Linked DNA regions of Homo sapiens: region 1 is linked to region 2. Evidence: fine-mapped expression QTL. Tissue or cell type: fibroblasts. Region 2 holds a variant in brackets; the other region holds the start of a gene. All regions are shown on one strand. Distances are between the middles of the regions.

Region 1 (8,094 bases), 67 kb before region 2:
CAGTCATGCATACCCAAAGCCTTCAGCCCATGGCCGAAATTCCCTTGCTGGACAGGGGGCCTTTCAGCCCCTGCTTGGACGCTTCCAGTAACAGGGCCCTCACTGCAGGAATCGTGGGAGGGAGAGGGGCAGCACAGAGTTGCTGGCTGTCGGGGAAGGGAGGGAGGGCCCTGGGCAGTCCGAGGGCCCTGCTGGGCTTGTGCCTCAGGGTGGGGGCTGCACTCCTCCGCCTTGCAGCCTCCTGGCCTGGTGCTGCTGCCAGCCGGAAGGACAGTGACTTCCAGAGGAAATGCATATTGATCCTGCTTTCAGCCTCCGGTGGTGGCTTCTCCCAACCCAGCTCTTCCCTCCTGAGCCTGCAGCACGGAGGTTTTGGGGGTCACTGCTACCTAAAGAAGGCTAAGGCCACTTCTGAGGCTGGTCTGGGAGTTTACTAAAGGTTCTGAAGCTGGGCCGGGCTGCCCCTGGGATCAGGAGACTCCAGACAGCAGTCCTGACAATGGGAACTACCTCCTCAGTCCCCCAAACTGGGAGGTGTCCCACAGCAGCTGTAGGATTGTCCTAGGGGTGGAGACCTGAGCACCTTCCACTCCAAAGCACAGTATCTGTGGGCCTGGCAGTGGCCTCAGTTCCCCCATGAGTGCCCCGGTCCCCCACCCCAGGGTTTCCCCACATCACATCCATCCCTGCTTTGAGACCCCACTCCCCCTGGCCTGTTCTTTATTTTGGGTCACTCCCTTCTCTTTCCTGGTCATATCTCTCCTGCAGGCCTACCCTGTGTTGGGCCCCCCAGCCCTGTCTCTGCATCGGGTGCCCCCCTGCCCCTCCTTCTGTCCTCAGCCCCCTCCGCCCTTCCCCCTCTTGAGGCTGTAATATCCGTTTCACGATTTGGGGGCTGAGTTGCTATAACAACAGACGGCGATTGTGTTGTGAAGAGCAGCTCGCTCCTGTGCCGCCTGCCTCCTGTGCTGCCTCCATCCCTGCAGCCCAGTCGGTTCCTCTTGGCTCCTCTCGTCACTACCCTCCAGTTCCAGTCTGGCCTCTTCCTGGTGTGTGTGTGTGTGTGTGTGTGTGTGTGTGTGTGTGTGTGTATGCATGCATGCATATGTGTGTCCAGGTCTGCCTGCCCGGGATGTGACAAGTAGCGGTCTTCATGGTTGCATGTGTCTGAATTTGGTGTCTGAGCTTCACATTGTATGCGCCTGTGTGCATGTGTGTGCATGGACATGCATGCTGTATCTGCTGTGTTTCCCCTCCCCCATGTGTCCCCACTGGCCTTTGCACATGGGAGAAGGGCATGTGCTCAGCATATCACTCAACTGTCCACATTGGGTGGGTACCTGTGTGTGGTGTGTGTGTGTGTGGGGTGTGTCTTGAAGTGGCAGGTCCCAAATGCTTAGGCAATCTGAACCTTGGACCTTGCAGAGAGGAGAGATGTCCCTGTAGGTGGGAGGGACAGGGAGATGCAGCAGCTGCCCGGTGACCTTTTCTGCCCTTGATGGGCAAAGCTGGGGGTAGGGAAAGGAGACAAGTGCTCATACTTACCTCCCTCCCTGCCCAGGCTCCTCTGTAAGGGTCTGAGTCTGTCTCTGTGAGCCATTGCATCTGTCTGTCTATGCCCTGATGCCTGGATGGACAAGGGGTGTGTGTGTGTGTGTGTGTGTGTGTGAGTGTGAGGAGGCTGCAGGAAGAGGAACAGTGGGGGATGGGCAGGAAAGTGGGCTGTGGGGTCAGGGAGGCGATTTCGCATTCATAGGCCCTGACGCAGCAGTTCCATTCTCTGGCTCCTTCATTGGCTTTGGTGGGGATGCCCTGGGGGTCTCTCCAAGGTCAGAGTGGGCCCTAAGTCTGGGACCTGGCTTAGGGATCACCCTTCTCGACTCCTAGGAAAAACTCCTTGCAGCCTGGGTCCCCCTCTTACCCCTTCACAGGCTGGGGAAGGAGTTTCCCACCCGGGGGGTTGGTGTCCGCATTAAGCCACTCAGTAATTGACCACTCTCTTTGAAGTGCCTGGGCAGGGGTCCAGGATGACTGTGGGCAGGTCCCCTGGGTGCAGCTGTTCTGGGCATGCATTAATTGCCTGGTGTAGGTACCTGTGTGCACAAGTGTGTGTGTTCTTGGGCAGTATATGCTTCCTGTGGGTGTGTTACCATGGTGGGGCATTTCTGCAGGTGTTCTTATGTGTCTCTGGGAATGCCCAGTGTTCACAGATATGTGTGCATGGCTGTGAGTGCCCCAATGTCCATGCATTGGTGGTTGAATGTAAGTGTTCTTGCATGTTGCCTCTGGCTAAGGAAGTGCCAACTACCACCAGCTGTGCAGATCACAGACCCTGCAACAGAAACCAGGGTCCTGGAGTGAGCTGGCAGAATGGTCTGGCACACATACACACACACACTCTGTCTCTCACTGTCTCATTCAGCAGCCCAGTGACCAACCTCGGGGTATACACACTAAGTGCCAGTGTGTGTACACTTTTATTGGCGGAGTGAGTGAAGGGTGTCCCCCAGTCCCCCACACTCATACACATGCACAGTGATGCATGTACCCTTACAGGAGAGACCTGCGCCCCCCAGCACCACTCTAACTGAAACTCATGGATGGGAGGAGGAGAACAGAGAAGGGGGCTGCTGCCAGGTGCCCTCAGTCACCAGGCATGTGCAGGCGCAACCCTGCCCCCACACCTACTCGTACCTCGGTCCAGGGTTCCAGGCAGAACTGAGAGTTTGGCCTCAAACTCTGGGATTCCCATGAGGCAGGACTGGGAAACCCCCAAGTTCCTAGGTCTACCCCGCCCCCATCTCTGCCTTTCCTTCCCCCACCGCCTCCGTCTTTATCCCAGCAAAGCCCCTTCCTCTTCAGTTCTGGGGGCTCCAAGCCAGGGGCCCTCCGGACGGTGGGAGGTGGGGGCCAGGCTACCGACTGGAAAAAGCCCCCAGCAGCCATGGACCCACCGAGTCCCCCTTCTCTAGGCTCCTCGAAGCCCGGGCCCGCCCCTGGGGGTAGCCAGCAGAGGGCGCTGCGGCCCAGGCCCCGCATCAGCCCTGCTCTCGCGGCGTCCCAAGTCGGGGTCCACAGCCTCTCCTTCGGCTTGTCCCAGCCCCGCGCTGCGCGAAGACCTGCTGGCCGTGGGGGGAGGGTGCGGGACCCAAGGCCCCGAACTAAGGGGCGAGGGGCGAGGGGCGAGAGTGCTTGGGTTCCCGGAAAAGACACTGAGGCCGGGTTTGGGGCCCGCCTGGTTGGGGGCCCGGGCGCCCGAGAACCTCGAGAGGCTGGGAGGAGCGCGGGTGCTGGGGCCGGGACGCCTGGGTCCCGCGCGAGGGAGGGAGTGGGCCTGTGGAGCCGCTGGACTGGCGGCTTCTGAGCCCTTGCATTGGCTGCGCTGCTCGCCCGTCAGCGCAGCGTGGTCCAATGCGCGCGTCTCGGGGGCGGGCACTGGTGCTGATGCTGCCGTCAGTCGGTGTTGCAGGGATGCGGCGGCGGGAGCAGCCGCCCTGACTCGCGGAGCATCCTCCTCGGAGAGGCACCGCGGCGGGGCGGGCGGGCGGGCGGGGACGCGGCGGGGAGGGAGAGAGGCGCGAGGCGGCAGACACCGCTAGCCCTGGCTCTGCCACCCGTCGGAGACGGGGCGGCCCTGTAGCTCTGCTACCCACCCTCCAGCTTCTGGCGCCCCGAGAACCAGGTAAAATGGGGGGGGGGGGGCGCTGCGGCGGAGACGGGCGGGGGGCGGGAGCCGATCGGGGGAGGGGAGCGGATCGGAGGGGGCGAGGGAGGCAGGACGGATGAATTGGGGGGCGGGGGCGCCGCGCTGAGAGGGCTGGCCCGGTGACAGCGAGGAGGCAAAGCCGCTGGGGGCTTGGGGGTCGGAGGCTCCTGTGGAAGGGGCACTGGCCCTGAGAGCTGAGGAGAATGGGGAGGGGTGGGAGGAAGGGTCTTTGGGGGAAGGGATGGAGAGAGGAGGGGCATCCAGAGGACTTAGAGGGGGTTCTTAAAGGGGGGTCCCCAGTCTGTGCTAGCCCCAGAGGCTTGAAGCAGCGCCGGGCCAGAGGAGCTGTTGTGTTCTGGAGGGTCTAACCAGCGAGAAACTGGGCTTCGTGGGAGGAGAGGAGAGGGGGCTGGAGAAGAGAGAGAAGTGGAGAGGGAAGGAAAGGGGCCAGGCCAAGGGCTTCGTCCTGAGGGGACCCACTGAGGACCAGGCTTTCCTGGGGGATGGGAGCCAAGGGGAGAAGAGGTTATTGGGAGAGAGCAGAGGGGAATGTGCCAAGGTGCTCCAGGCAGAGATGGGTCTGTGCTGGTGGAGAGCTGGGAAAGATGGGGTCTGAGGGAGAGGAGCGGAAGCTTGCGGGGGAAGGCTGGGGGTGATGAGACAGGGAGACTGGGAAATCAGTAGGAGGGGGCTTTGCTGGGGTGGGAATGCGCTGGGGGCGGTGACAGGGTTCTGGTCAGAGAGTGCTGCAGGGGGAGAGGAAGCTGCAGGGCCCTTGGCTTGCTCCCCCACCCCTAAAGAGGAAGGGACCATTTCTCATGTCCCAGCCTCCTCCCCCAGCTGAAGCAGCAATCTTCCCTGGGGTCTTTGGGTTGGGGTATGAGCCCTTGAACCCTTGATGGGCTTTTGGGGCACAATTGGCTTTGGGGTGCTGTTGTCTCCTTTACTCTCACCCCCCTCCTGAATCTTGGGAGAGGGCATTCGATGCCTCATTGAGCTAGCAAGGGCTGGGAGGGGCTTTTTCTTGGTGTCTGGAGGTGAAGGAGGAGGCTGTCCACCTGGAATAATGAAATAGATTTTTAGGGGGTGGGTCTTGGGTCCCCAGTCCCTTGGCTGCCCTGGGGGCTTCCAGATAGCCCTGTTTTTTCATGTGTTGGCGGGTGGGCGTCTCTCCTCTTCCATTCATTCTTATCCTTCCCTGTTGTCTACCTTCCCAGTGTCTGGGTGTTCCTTTTGGAGGAGGGTGGACATTAGGGTCTTACTTTCTCTGTCTTCTGCCAGAGAAGGAGAAAGAAAGAAGGGAGAGGGAAGGAGAAGGGGAGGGAGGTCTGCAGTCTGCTAACTGTGAGGCCTTCTGTTTTGTGGGTGCTTCAGCCCCTCAGTCCCTACCTCCTCTTGCTTCCAGGGATGGCTCTAGGGATGCTGGCATCTGAGGTGTGGCTGGATCTTTTGGGAGACAGGGGAGAAGGGTCTGGCTGGGGGCTCTTCATTCATGCTAGAGGAAGTGTTCTCAGACCCATCCTATCCTCAGATCCACAGGGGTGGGCGGGATGGACCAACCAGCCACGGCTGCCGGGCAGTTCTTTCCAGCCCAGGCCTGGGCTGAATCCATATGACATTGGAGTTCTGAGAGGAGGGGCTGGGTGCGCGAGTGGCTGGTGGGGACCCCTCTTTCCTTCCAGGCTCAGTCACTACCCAGGTCCAGCTGCTCCCTCCCGCTTACCCTTGCCAGTGACACAGACACTCTGACAATGATACACGCGCTCGGTGGCACCCACCCAGACACACACCTACACAGGCACACACACCTGCGTACACAATACACCTCCTGGCAGCATACAGCCCACACTCCCCACCCAGAGAGGCTGCCACCTCATGCCTGCCTCCTTGAGACCTCCCCCAGGTGCCTTGCTGCCATGTACACAACACACACACGGCCACTACGTGCCCCCAGAGCCCCCAGCGCAGCACTGCCAGCCCTCACCCTTGGATGCACACAGCCCCCATCCAACCACTCACCTCCCCAGGCTCACAGCCATCGCAGGCACACCTGTGCTTCTTCCTCATACACCTTCAGTCCTTGCAACACACCCTCTCCTTCCAGACACCCCATCCCTCCCAGGTCTACACAGCATGTGGGCACACCCTCCCAGACACACCAGTCCCTGCCCCCCAGCAAGCTCATCCTGAAGTACCATGTGCATGTCTGTCTGGGTGCTGAACACCTTGCCCCAGGCCTTTGTGTGTGTGCACGTGTGTGTGCACACCAGCACATGTTTGCTAACACACTTAATGCTGTGGCTCACCCCCTAAACCTCTCTTCTACTTTCTCTCTCTCTCACTCACTTATCTTTGTACCTTCGGCGCAGGGCCTCCTACCCCTCCTGGCCACAACCACGACCCTTCCCAGTGGAGTCCAGCCCCCACCTACACCTGGTTTCCCTGGGAGCCTTCCCATTTCTAAGTGGCCCCACCCCCCGCATTAATCCTCAGGCACAAGGGCCCCTACACCTGCCTGTGCACTGGAGACACTGTCCTTTCATTCGCAGCTCCCAAGCCCAGCCCCCACGGGGATGCCCCGATTGTGTGTCCTCACACGCCACCCACCTTGCTGCTCCATCTGTTGGTGCAGCTCCCTCGCCCCTGCCCCTTCCACACTGATGGGCCTGTGGGCTCTCGGAGACTCATTCAACAAATAGTCTGGTGCACACTTTCAAGGATGTGTGTGGCACCTTGTTATTTACGAAGCTGCTTCCCCACTGCCACCACCACTGTTTGGCATGGTGGGGTGAGGGTGAAGGTGGGACTCCGCTGTGCTCCTCAGTGAGCCTCAGTTTCCTCACGTGTGAAATGGGATCCTCATCCCTACCTAGTGGGATGTTATGAGGACTCACTGAGAGGACAATGATGGCAATGATAGTAGTAACAAGCATGTTTATTGTGTACCTACTGTGTGCCTGGCCTTGTGCGAAGCACTCTGTAAACCTTACTTTGAGGTATTTGTAAGACACATAGAAGGTCCCCGTAAATGGTAGCTATTTTTATTGTCATTATCATAACCTTCCCTGCACGCACACACACGCGCACACACCTGTCATAGATACCTTTAGGAACATTCCCAGGCACCTCATGCTTACTCACAAGGCCGCCCCTGGAAGCCATCTGTCCCCCTCTGCATCACTGGGGTGCACCCGCCCAGGCTGCTGTGCCCCAGCTGTGCACAGCATAGGTAAGCTTGGTGCTCATCCCTCCCACCACCTACCTCCATGCTCCCATGCACCTGTCCTCCGGCCCCCACTCCACCAAGTCATTCCATTGCACCTCTGTCCCCAGCCCACCCGCTTCCCCAGCTCCATGAGGCGGCAGCAGCCTCATCCTGTGCACCCCGAGCTACCAGCTCCTGGGCCCAGCCCGCTCCATGCTTCTCTCCATGACACAGAGAGCTGCTTGGCGACCTGCAGACATGGCCGCTCATGCCCAGCCCACCCTGGCATGGGACTCCGACTTATCTTTAGACCTGTTTGTTCCTTCTACTGCCCTCTGAGTCAGGACAATTGACCAGCAGAGTTGAGGAGGACACGAGGGATAGGGATTAGACAGAACCAAATCTGAATCCCAGCTCTGCCATTTATGATTTGTGGGACCTTGGGTGGGTCCCTTCTCCCCTTTGAGTATCTATTTCCTCATCTGTAAAAGGGGCAGTGATAATACTTGTCTTGCTTACTTTTCTCACCAAGCCCTGGTGAGGATCAGAGGAAACACTAGGCACTCGGTACTGCAAACTGTAAAAGGCCGAGATGAGAAGTTTTAAAAAAATCATTAATACGACACACTTTTTTTTCACACGTTAGTCTATGCCAGGCAGTGTACTAGGAGCTTTATGTATGTTAATTCTAATTTTGACAACACTATTATTATCTCTATTTTATACATAAAGAAAGTGAAGCACAGAGAGGCTGAGTAACTTACCAAAGGTCACACAGCTGGATAGGGGTAGAGCTGGCATTTGAACCCAGGCTTCAGAGCCAGTGCCTCTAACCACTGTGCTGTCTTGTTTTTGCTGCTGCTGAGGTTGTGGCTGGGTGTGGAAAGGCATGGGGTCTTCCCTTTTTTCTGCCAGATCATCACGGCTGGAAGGAAGGGGGAGGTAGGAACTGTTCACCGTCTGCCAATCTTGCCTGGAATTTCACGGGGGAAAGGGGACCCTCCAAAAAACATTCTGCACCTGAAAAGGACCTCAGGGGTCAAGCAGTCTGCTGTCCTCTTCCATATGATTCAAGAGCCTCCCCCACACCGAGCCTCTCTGAGCAGCAGTCATCCGGTCTCACCTCGAACACCCCCACAGACGGGGAACTCACCACCCCCCGAGGCAGCCTACTCCACTGTTG
Region 2 (8,098 bases):
ATCTGGGGTATGCTAACTGTCCTCCCTGGTGACTCATGTGGATCTTGGTAGCATCTGTCCTGCACACACACAGATGACACAGCTCATTTTTGGTCAATGGCTCATCCACTTGCTCATTCATTGGTTCATTCATTTGAGAAGCACTTGCTGACGCCTAGTGGGTGCTAAGCCTGAGCTCAGTGTGGTGGCAGATACAGAGATGAGGAAGGCCTGGTCCATGCACGCAGCTGCCCCCCACTGCTCTGCTCAGTCTAAACAGCAGTCTGTGTGTTGGTGTGTGGAGGTGCATGTGTGTACACTGGACACACAGACGTGCCATCTTCCCGTTTCTAGTGCCATGAGCTTTCACATTTGAGCCTCATGGCTGTCCTGTGAAGACACTAGATCACCAAACAAGCATTACTGTCCCTGTTTTATAGATTATGAAATTCATGTATTGACTTGTTCAACATTACAAAACTAGTGAAGGCAGAGGGAGGAGCCAGGACTCAACCTGGGCCATTTGCCTTAAAATTCAGTGCTTTTCCCATTGCCTCGGACAGGGCTGCTGACCCTCCCCCTCAGGCCACTCATGCTGACTCATGTCTCCACCCATGCCCAGGGTTGAGAGCAGGCCTTGACTCCACTTCACCTGGTGGTCCCCGGGGTGTCCATGAGGGCCAGACCATGAGCCTGTTAGGTTCTTCTCACGGGCTTCAGCTCTCCTAGTCAGGGCAAAAAGAAAACAGCAGGTTCACTCATTCAGCTATTTATGGGACACCATATAAATGCTAGGTATGTTCAAGCCAGGGGCTACAGCAGTGAATAAGCAGTCCCCACCCCTTTGGAGCTTTCAGAGCAGGGGAACCCTGGGAATGAGAGGTCCTAAGCTGTTCAGGCTGAGGTCAAATCTGTCCATTTCAGACTGGCCTCTAGAAGCTTATAAAGGTGTAGCACCAGCCGTATAGGAAGCTTGCAGGTCATCAGGGTCACTTGTTGTATCCTGGACCTAGAGGGGAAGCAGGGCTCTTCTGAGCAGGTTAGAATCCTCGACTGGAGAGAATACAGAGCTTTGACCATTTTTTTTGTTTTTTGAGATGGAGTCTCGCTCTTTCACCCAGGTGGGAGTGCAGTGGCGTGATCTGGGCTCACTGCAACCTCTGCCTCCCGGGTTCATGTGATTCTCTGCCTCAGCCTCCCGAGTAGCTGGGATTACAGGCACCCGCCACCACGCCTGGCTAATTTTTGTATTTTTAGTAGAGATGGGGTTTCACCATCTTGGCCACGCTGGTCTTGATCTCCTGGCCTCGTGATCCACCCGCCTCGGCCTCCCAAAGTGCTGGGATTACAGGCATGAGCCACTGTGCCTGGCTGAACTTTGAACTTTTAAATACTCATCTGGAGTCTCATCCTAACATTGGTCTCCGGGGCATTTGTGGGACAGACTGTGGCCTTTGGGGAACCCATTGCCTTGTAAATGTATTTATACTATGTTCTTTCCTTTTCCCCTTTTGGCCACCTGGCCTTTGTATTCCTAGGACAAAGATTTGCTGAGAGAGGTGGGGACTGGAGGTGGGGAGATATGCAGGTGGCCAGGGCCTCAGAGTTGTTTGAAGGGTTCCCCTCAGCTCTGTTTCTAACCACGATCACAGCCTGTAGAGCGGGTGGTGTGCAGCAGCTCTGCAGGGGAAAGCAGGCTGGGAGACACTCTAGTCAATGCTCCACAAGTCTGCACAATGCTCCCTTGCATCCCTGAAACTGTCACAAGAGGATAGCCCCAGCCAAGGACCCCATAAGTGGCTCTGTACTTCCAAGTCTGCCCAGATTTGTGTATCCAGTGTGAGTTCCCCCCTACTTTGCCTGGGCATATGTGTGTTGTCTGCATCTAAACACATGTCTCTGTGCTTGCTGGGGACACAGCAGGAAAAATCTGGGGCCTTGGATCTGCAGGGAAGGCAGATGCATTTTGCTTATTTGGACTGTCCTAGGCCCCTGGGAAGAAGATTGTGTCTCTTAAGATTAGACAGGAAACAATGTCCTTGGTCAGGAAAACCTATCCTGTGGGCCCTTGGGACCCACCCTCTCCTCTCCATGGGCACACTTTTCTGTCTGTGCCACATAAGTGCTCAGAAGTCAGATAACAAGGTGGCCTCTTGGAAGACACATCATGTTAAGAATAGGCTTCCCAGACTGACAGATAACAGGACTCTCCTCCCACCCATTTCTTACTCCTGGCTGTGCCCCTGCCCCCATCTGTAGACATGTGTGTGCTGAGATGCCATCTCTAGCATGACTCCTGACAATCTGTGACCAAAGGCTTGGTGCAAATGCATCCGTCTACAGATTCCTCCTCTGTAGGCACTGTGGACACGCAGGTGGCCCCTACCCAGCCACCAAGCCTTGGGTTGGGATGGGAAGAGTTCTGGGCTCCGGGCCAGAAGACCTGGGGCCTAACTTTGGTATCTTTTACTGTTGGGTAAGTCATTTCCCATCTCTGAGTCTCTCTCTCTTTTTTTTAATCTTTAAAATGGAGATAAGAATCTTCACTCTGCCTACGTCTGTGGTGGTTTTGAGGCTCAGATGGAAGAATGGGAATGAAACCATTGAAACCATTGTGTAGATGCAAGACCCATAGTAGAGACCCACCCAGCCTTCTTGAAGGAAAACAAAACCATATTGGAATAGAGACTTGAGTTTGGAGCCAGGCCTGGGGGCCACTTCCACATAGCATGGACAGACTGGAGTTGTCCTCTACTAGGTGTGCCCATGGGGTCCCAGCTGTCAGTGCAGCTGATGGGAAAAGTGCAGTGTAAAGAATCTCTGAACCACAAGGCGTCACCTCCTTCAGCCTCCTGGCCCACGTGAATCACTTCAAGAGCCCCATTCCTGTCCCCCATTGCTTGCTCCCCAGGACTTGCAGGGCCTCACAGACCGGCAGCAACACCAAGGCCCCAGGCCTGGGCTGGACTCACTACTGGGGAAGAGAGAGAAGCCTGGTGAGGCTTGGTCTCTGGCCTCATGATCTTATCCTGTAGAGGGAAGCTATTGCTCCAGGAGGCAGCTCTGCAGCTCCACAGGCACTCAGTGGATTGAAACAGGCCCCAGGCTGGGCCTGAAGAGGGAGCGGAGGCTGCGGGTGACCACTAGGTGGGATCGCTTAGTGCTAGCCTCAAGAGATGGGATATTTGCTAGATAAGAGAGGGACAAAAAGGCACTGCTGCCTCTTTCCAGGCAGAGGATCCTAAGGAACTTATCGTGCCTCCTGCTGCAGCTTCCCAGCCCCCACTATGTTTGCAAACACTGAGCAAGTTCCTTGAGCTCTGCTGTCTGCAGCCCCTGAGTTGGGGAGTTGATCTCTGTCCCTAGAGGATGGTAGAGTCCCCTGGATTCTTTGCCCTATCCCAGCATGGCCTGGGCCCCTCCCTGGAGGGGAGGAGAGGACAGGCCAGGCTGGGCACTGTCCTCTACTAGGTGTGCCCCTGGGGTCCCAGCTGTCAGTGCAGCTGACCTGAAGGGTGTGGTGTAATTAAAGAATCTCTGAGCTGCAAGGGGGTTACCTCCTTCAGCATCCCTCCCCACCCCATGAATCACCCATACACTCCCTACCAGTGGGAGGCCTTCTACCTCCCACCTCCAAGATCCATTCTGATCATTGAGTGGTTCTTTCTTAGTGTCACCCTGCCCTTCTGAAATTCCCACTTATTGTGAAATTCCCACTTATTGTGAAATTCCC[G/ACTTATTGTGAAATTCCCG]TTAGTTCTGCCCCTTGGAATCAAACGGAGAAATCTAACTCCCGTTTGTGTTTTAAATCAGGCTAAATACACATTGTATCCCAAAGCCCTTTAATCCCTGGGGCCATGGGAGGGTACATTGCCTTTCCACCTGAGGCTGATCAGTAATTATCAGGGGGGCTGCTGGGAGCCAGCTCTGAAGGAGGGCTATGACAGAGTGCATGCTGCCACTCTGTGATGTCACTTCTGAGACAGATGCCTGGGAGCCTTGGGCCCACTGTCTCCAACCCACAGGGCCTGGGCGGGGAAGGAACCCAGGTGAGGCAGGGCTGGGAAGCCAGTGTTCTTTCCCCTGAGTTCCTTTCCATGCAGACTGCTTTGTCTTACCTCCCCAACACGTGTTCATACTACGACCCTGCTCTCTCTGTCCAGCCAGGGCCTTCGTGGGTCTGTGCCACGAAGACCACTCACTTCTGCCTATTCCCTGCACTTGAGGCACAGGTCACTAGTTAACAGGTTACTAGTTAGTGCCCCCTGAACTTTGGTGAATGTGTATGTTGAAGAGGCTGGGTTTCTCCTGCTCACTCTCAGTCTCTGGCTTTCTTCTGGATGGGGCTGGCTTCCCTCTGGGTGCCCATCTTCAAGTCGTTTGCTCTTGCAAACCCTACTGGAGCCTGTGTTTCTGAGGGTGGAGTCTCTGCAGGGGTGGGCCTGGAGCTGACACCTCTTCTCTGGACAGATGGACCCCCCATTCCTGGTGCTCCCTTGCTGGGGAAGGAGAAGAATCAAGCTCCTTCTTTGGGTCTTTTCCCCAGTAGGGGACCTGCTTGCCCATCCAGCCTCCCCTTTTTTCTTTTTTTGGACCCTTCATTGGTGAAGACTCTGCTGGCCCCGAGAGAGCCCCCGTGACCTGACTCCAGGGCCTGGCACCCTTCTACCCTCACCCTAACAGTCCTCCCCTTCCTCTTCTGTCCAGCCTCCCCTGTCCCCTCTGTGCAGCCGCTCCTTCCTCTGCTCCGTTTTCTTCCTCTTTTCTCTCTGCACTCTCTCTACCTCATTCCTCTCACTGAGACTTCTCACTTCCCTCTGTGTCTGCCTTTTGACCTTTTTCTGCTCCTCTGCTCCTCCCTTGGTGCCAGGCTGTGGCCCAGGGTCCTGGCTGCTCGCCTCCACTCTTCTGCTGCGGTTGACAACGCGTGTGGAGCTCAGCTGTACTGCCGAAGGGCCGTGGCCCTCAAAGCCACAGGGGCATCAGTTTACCTCCACTGCAGGAACCTTCAGGGGCCCAGGGGATGCAGCTGCCCACCCCCTTTGCTTCCTGGGCTGTGGGGTAGGCAGAGCCTATTTGGGGTGGAGCGACAGGAGGCCAGGGTATTGGGCCTGTCAATCGAGGGCCGGGAGACTGCCCCTCTCTGAAAGGCAAAGCCAACCCAGTGTCTACCTGCTGCCTACTTCCTGCTCAGGATCCTACTGTTATCCATTCCCTCAGCTCACATGGAGGGAAGCTGAGGCATGGAGAGAAGTGCTTTGCCCAGGGTCACACAGTGAGTTAGTGAGTGTTAGGGTGGAGATGAGGACCCAGCTCCCTTGCTTCCCAGTAAAGGATTTCTGCAGCTCCAGCCAGTCCCCTCCCTTGGGCTGCGTCAGGCTTGGCGTTTGATGGAGTGGTGCAGACATCCTAAAGGCCTTAAATCTGGACTTCATAGGACCCTGGTCCACTGTTCCCTCTGCAAGACCTGACTGGCTCCCACCTTTGGGTGGTGTGTCTAACCAGAGGGATGGCCAGAGGCTTCAGGGCCCTGGGCTGCTGGCTCTGTGTAGCCACACGGGGCCTTCCCAGTCCTGAAATCAGAGGATAGCAATGCCAGGACCGGACTGGGGCAGGGGCAGGAAACTTTGCTTATGGTGGCTGCTTGTCCCCAACTGCTTTGTGTTCTCAGAGAAATCATATTTTGGGGGCTGCACTGTCTCTATCTGTGAGGCCTTGGCTCCTCTGACTAGGAAAGCAGGTTAATACTAGGTCCTCTTCAGGGTGAAGGACTCCCATGATCTATCCCCAGTAGCAGCCTGGCATTTCCCAGGATTGGAAAGGGTGGAAGGAAGGTTCCTGTAGGGGTGGTACTAGCCACTGGGGCTTTGGGAGGTGTATGGCCTCGGGAAGGGGGCCCTGGGGCAGACCCCTCCATTTAGCTCAGAGCCCAGAGGGGAACAGGGAGTGACAAGTCACACCTGGGCTCTGAGGAGGGAGTCGTCCCAGAGCAGGGGATGCAGGGATTCTGGCTCTCCCCACCCATCTCCCTCCCAGAGACAGGGGAGATGTGGGGTTGGTCAAGCCCTCGGCCCCCATTGATCCCCTGTACGACTGGGATTCCCAAGGTGCCCGTCTCCCTCAGACACTAGAGGCCTGGTACCCTCTAAGAAGGGGGCCACAAGCCCTCTTCCCATCATCTGACTGCCCTGCCTTCCAGCTCTGGGGAGGGTTGGAGCCCTCTTGGGGGCAGGAGGGACAGGGGTCCAACTGAGGAAGGGAAGAGGGCACCTGGGCACGCGTGGTCCCCGGAAAGTGGCCCTGGGGGGAACCCCGCCCGCAGACACCCCTCCCTGTGAAGGATGTAAAAAAAAAAAAAACTTGTTTTACCTTTTTGTCTCCCCTTCCCCTCTGCCCGCCCCATGGCCCCCCCAGACTGCCTGCGCGTCGGCTGCGCACCCAGTAAGTGGCTTCCCTCTTCTTCTGCAGAGACCCAAGGGGACTGGGATGCTGGACGCTGGGATTTAGGGAGGGAGGCTGGGAGGAAGAGAAGCCGTGATTGCTGGCTCGAATGGGGGTTGGGCCTTGAGTGTGGGGAGGGGTGCAGGCAGGAGGGTGAGGTTGGGTGGTTGTGGAAGGCAGGAGGGACCAAATGAAGCAGAGCCAAGGAGAGCTGGGGGAGGGCCTGCAGTCAGGATGTTCACTGGGTCTAGGAAGGGAGAGACAAGGACACCCTTTACCCAAGTCAGCAGGAGGGTGGGGAGGAGGTAGAAATCAAGGGCTGGGGCAGAGTCTTGGGTAGCACCTGTGGTCCTATGGACTGGCAGGGAGGAGCCTGAGAGGGGCTGGAATACGCTGCTGCATCTCCAGAATTGGCCACAAGGGGGAAGGCGAGGGATGCAGGAAAGAGGATGAGGGTGGGAAGGGAGCCCTCTTCAGCTCCTGTGTTAGCTGGGGTGAGTTTCTGCCAAATGGGGGCTCCTTCTATGGTGACAGTGAGGGCTCTCAGCAGGGGTGAGATGGAGAGTGAGCAGGTGGACATCTCCAGACATCCCAGTGCGCCTGGGCTCAATGCTGTGTCTCAGGGTGTTTCTGCATGGTGTGGCTTGGGGTCACATGGGGGAGCACATGCACGTGGTAGGCCCAGGCAGAGAGACTGTGTGTGCTGGGCGCCCTGCTCTTCATGTGTGTGTGGCATGCTGTGTGCGTGCTGGAGCCCTCGGGGTGGGGGGGCAGGGATGACCAGAGAGTGCTGCAAAGTCCAGCAGCATTTGAAAGATAAGTATGTTTTGTTTTAGACTCTGGAAGCTGATAATCCTGGTCTTGAGTAAATGGCCATAGTTCCTAAGAAACAGAACCTTCCCCTCTCTGGCCATCCTGCATATTTATGGGCAGTACGTGTGGTGGCGTGACTTGGTGTGTGACGTTAACCAGGCATGTGTATGTAGAAAGGTCCCATCGGGTCCCATTGTAGATGGAGGAGCTGGTGTCTGTGTAACAGAGGCCGAAGCTGTGGGCTCGCATTTACATTTGGGTACTGTGTGAAGTTTTGAAAGTTTTAGGTCTGTGTTTACACCCTGGGAATATAGCTTCTGGCCACACTCACTGAAGGCCCTTAGGAATCTGGGGGAAGAGTATGTTGGTCATAGGTGTGGGTGTCTGTGTGCAGGGCCTCAGGGTACAACTCCAGAGGCACCATTCACTTAATATTCTATGTGCATGGCACCTCCTAAAGTCACACAAAGGGCAGTCCTGAGAGTGGATGTATGACTGGGGTATAAAAGCTCTGCGTGTGCATGGACTCCAGGTGTGATGGGAGGCTATAAGTGTGTGTACTTGTATTCATGGGTGTGTTGCGTGGCCAAATATGAGCCACTGGTCATGTATGTGTTCATGTGTGGCATGTGCGGGGATGGGGAGGCTGTCTGTGTATCCAAGGTGATATAGGAAGTCACCTATGAGCATGTATAGGTGCCCTCCTCATTCCCCCCTTGGTGCCGCAGGTAAAGGCCCCGAAACGCTGTTTGCGGGGCACAAGCTCAATGACAATGAGTGGCACACGGTGAGGGTGGTCCGGCGTGGCAAGAGCCTGCAGCTGTCTGTGGACAACGTGACTGTGGAGGGTAGGTGGTCTGGGCCCAGGGAGGTGGACACATCTC

Which allele goes with the higher level. Alleles are on the strand shown, and positions count from the first base shown. SD is a standard deviation of normalised expression in the study named.
For the expression in fibroblasts of the gene that starts at base 3,456 in region 1, allele G in region 2 goes with a lower level than allele ACTTATTGTGAAATTCCCG (small effect, 0.37 SD a copy in GTEx).

Evidence for each region. PIP is the estimated chance that this variant, and not a neighbour inherited with it, causes the effect.
Region 1: NRXN2 starts here. The variant in region 2 is fine-mapped to the expression of NRXN2 in fibroblasts (GTEx, PIP 0.99).

What each region holds. Positions count from the first base shown.
Region 1 is chr11:64,718,559-64,726,652 of GRCh38, reverse strand. It overlaps NRXN2 (neurexin 2), which reads left to right and starts at 3,456. Exons shown (of 23, transcript NM_015080.4): 1 at 3,456-3,682. RefSeq lists enhancers at 518-1,356, 2,566-2,615 and silencers at 2,996-3,295, 3,282-3,576.
Region 2 is chr11:64,651,999-64,660,096 of GRCh38, reverse strand. It overlaps NRXN2 (neurexin 2), which reads left to right. Exons shown (of 23, transcript NM_015080.4): 12 at 6,375-6,401; 13 at 7,943-8,062. Among named protein-coding and RNA genes, the nearest start is that of NRXN2-AS1, 12 kb to the right of the region's middle. RefSeq lists enhancers at 1-608, 401-1,068, 2,419-2,918, 2,919-3,420, 4,911-5,070 and 2 more. The variant G/ACTTATTGTGAAATTCCCG (reference allele first, on the strand shown) is at 3,713.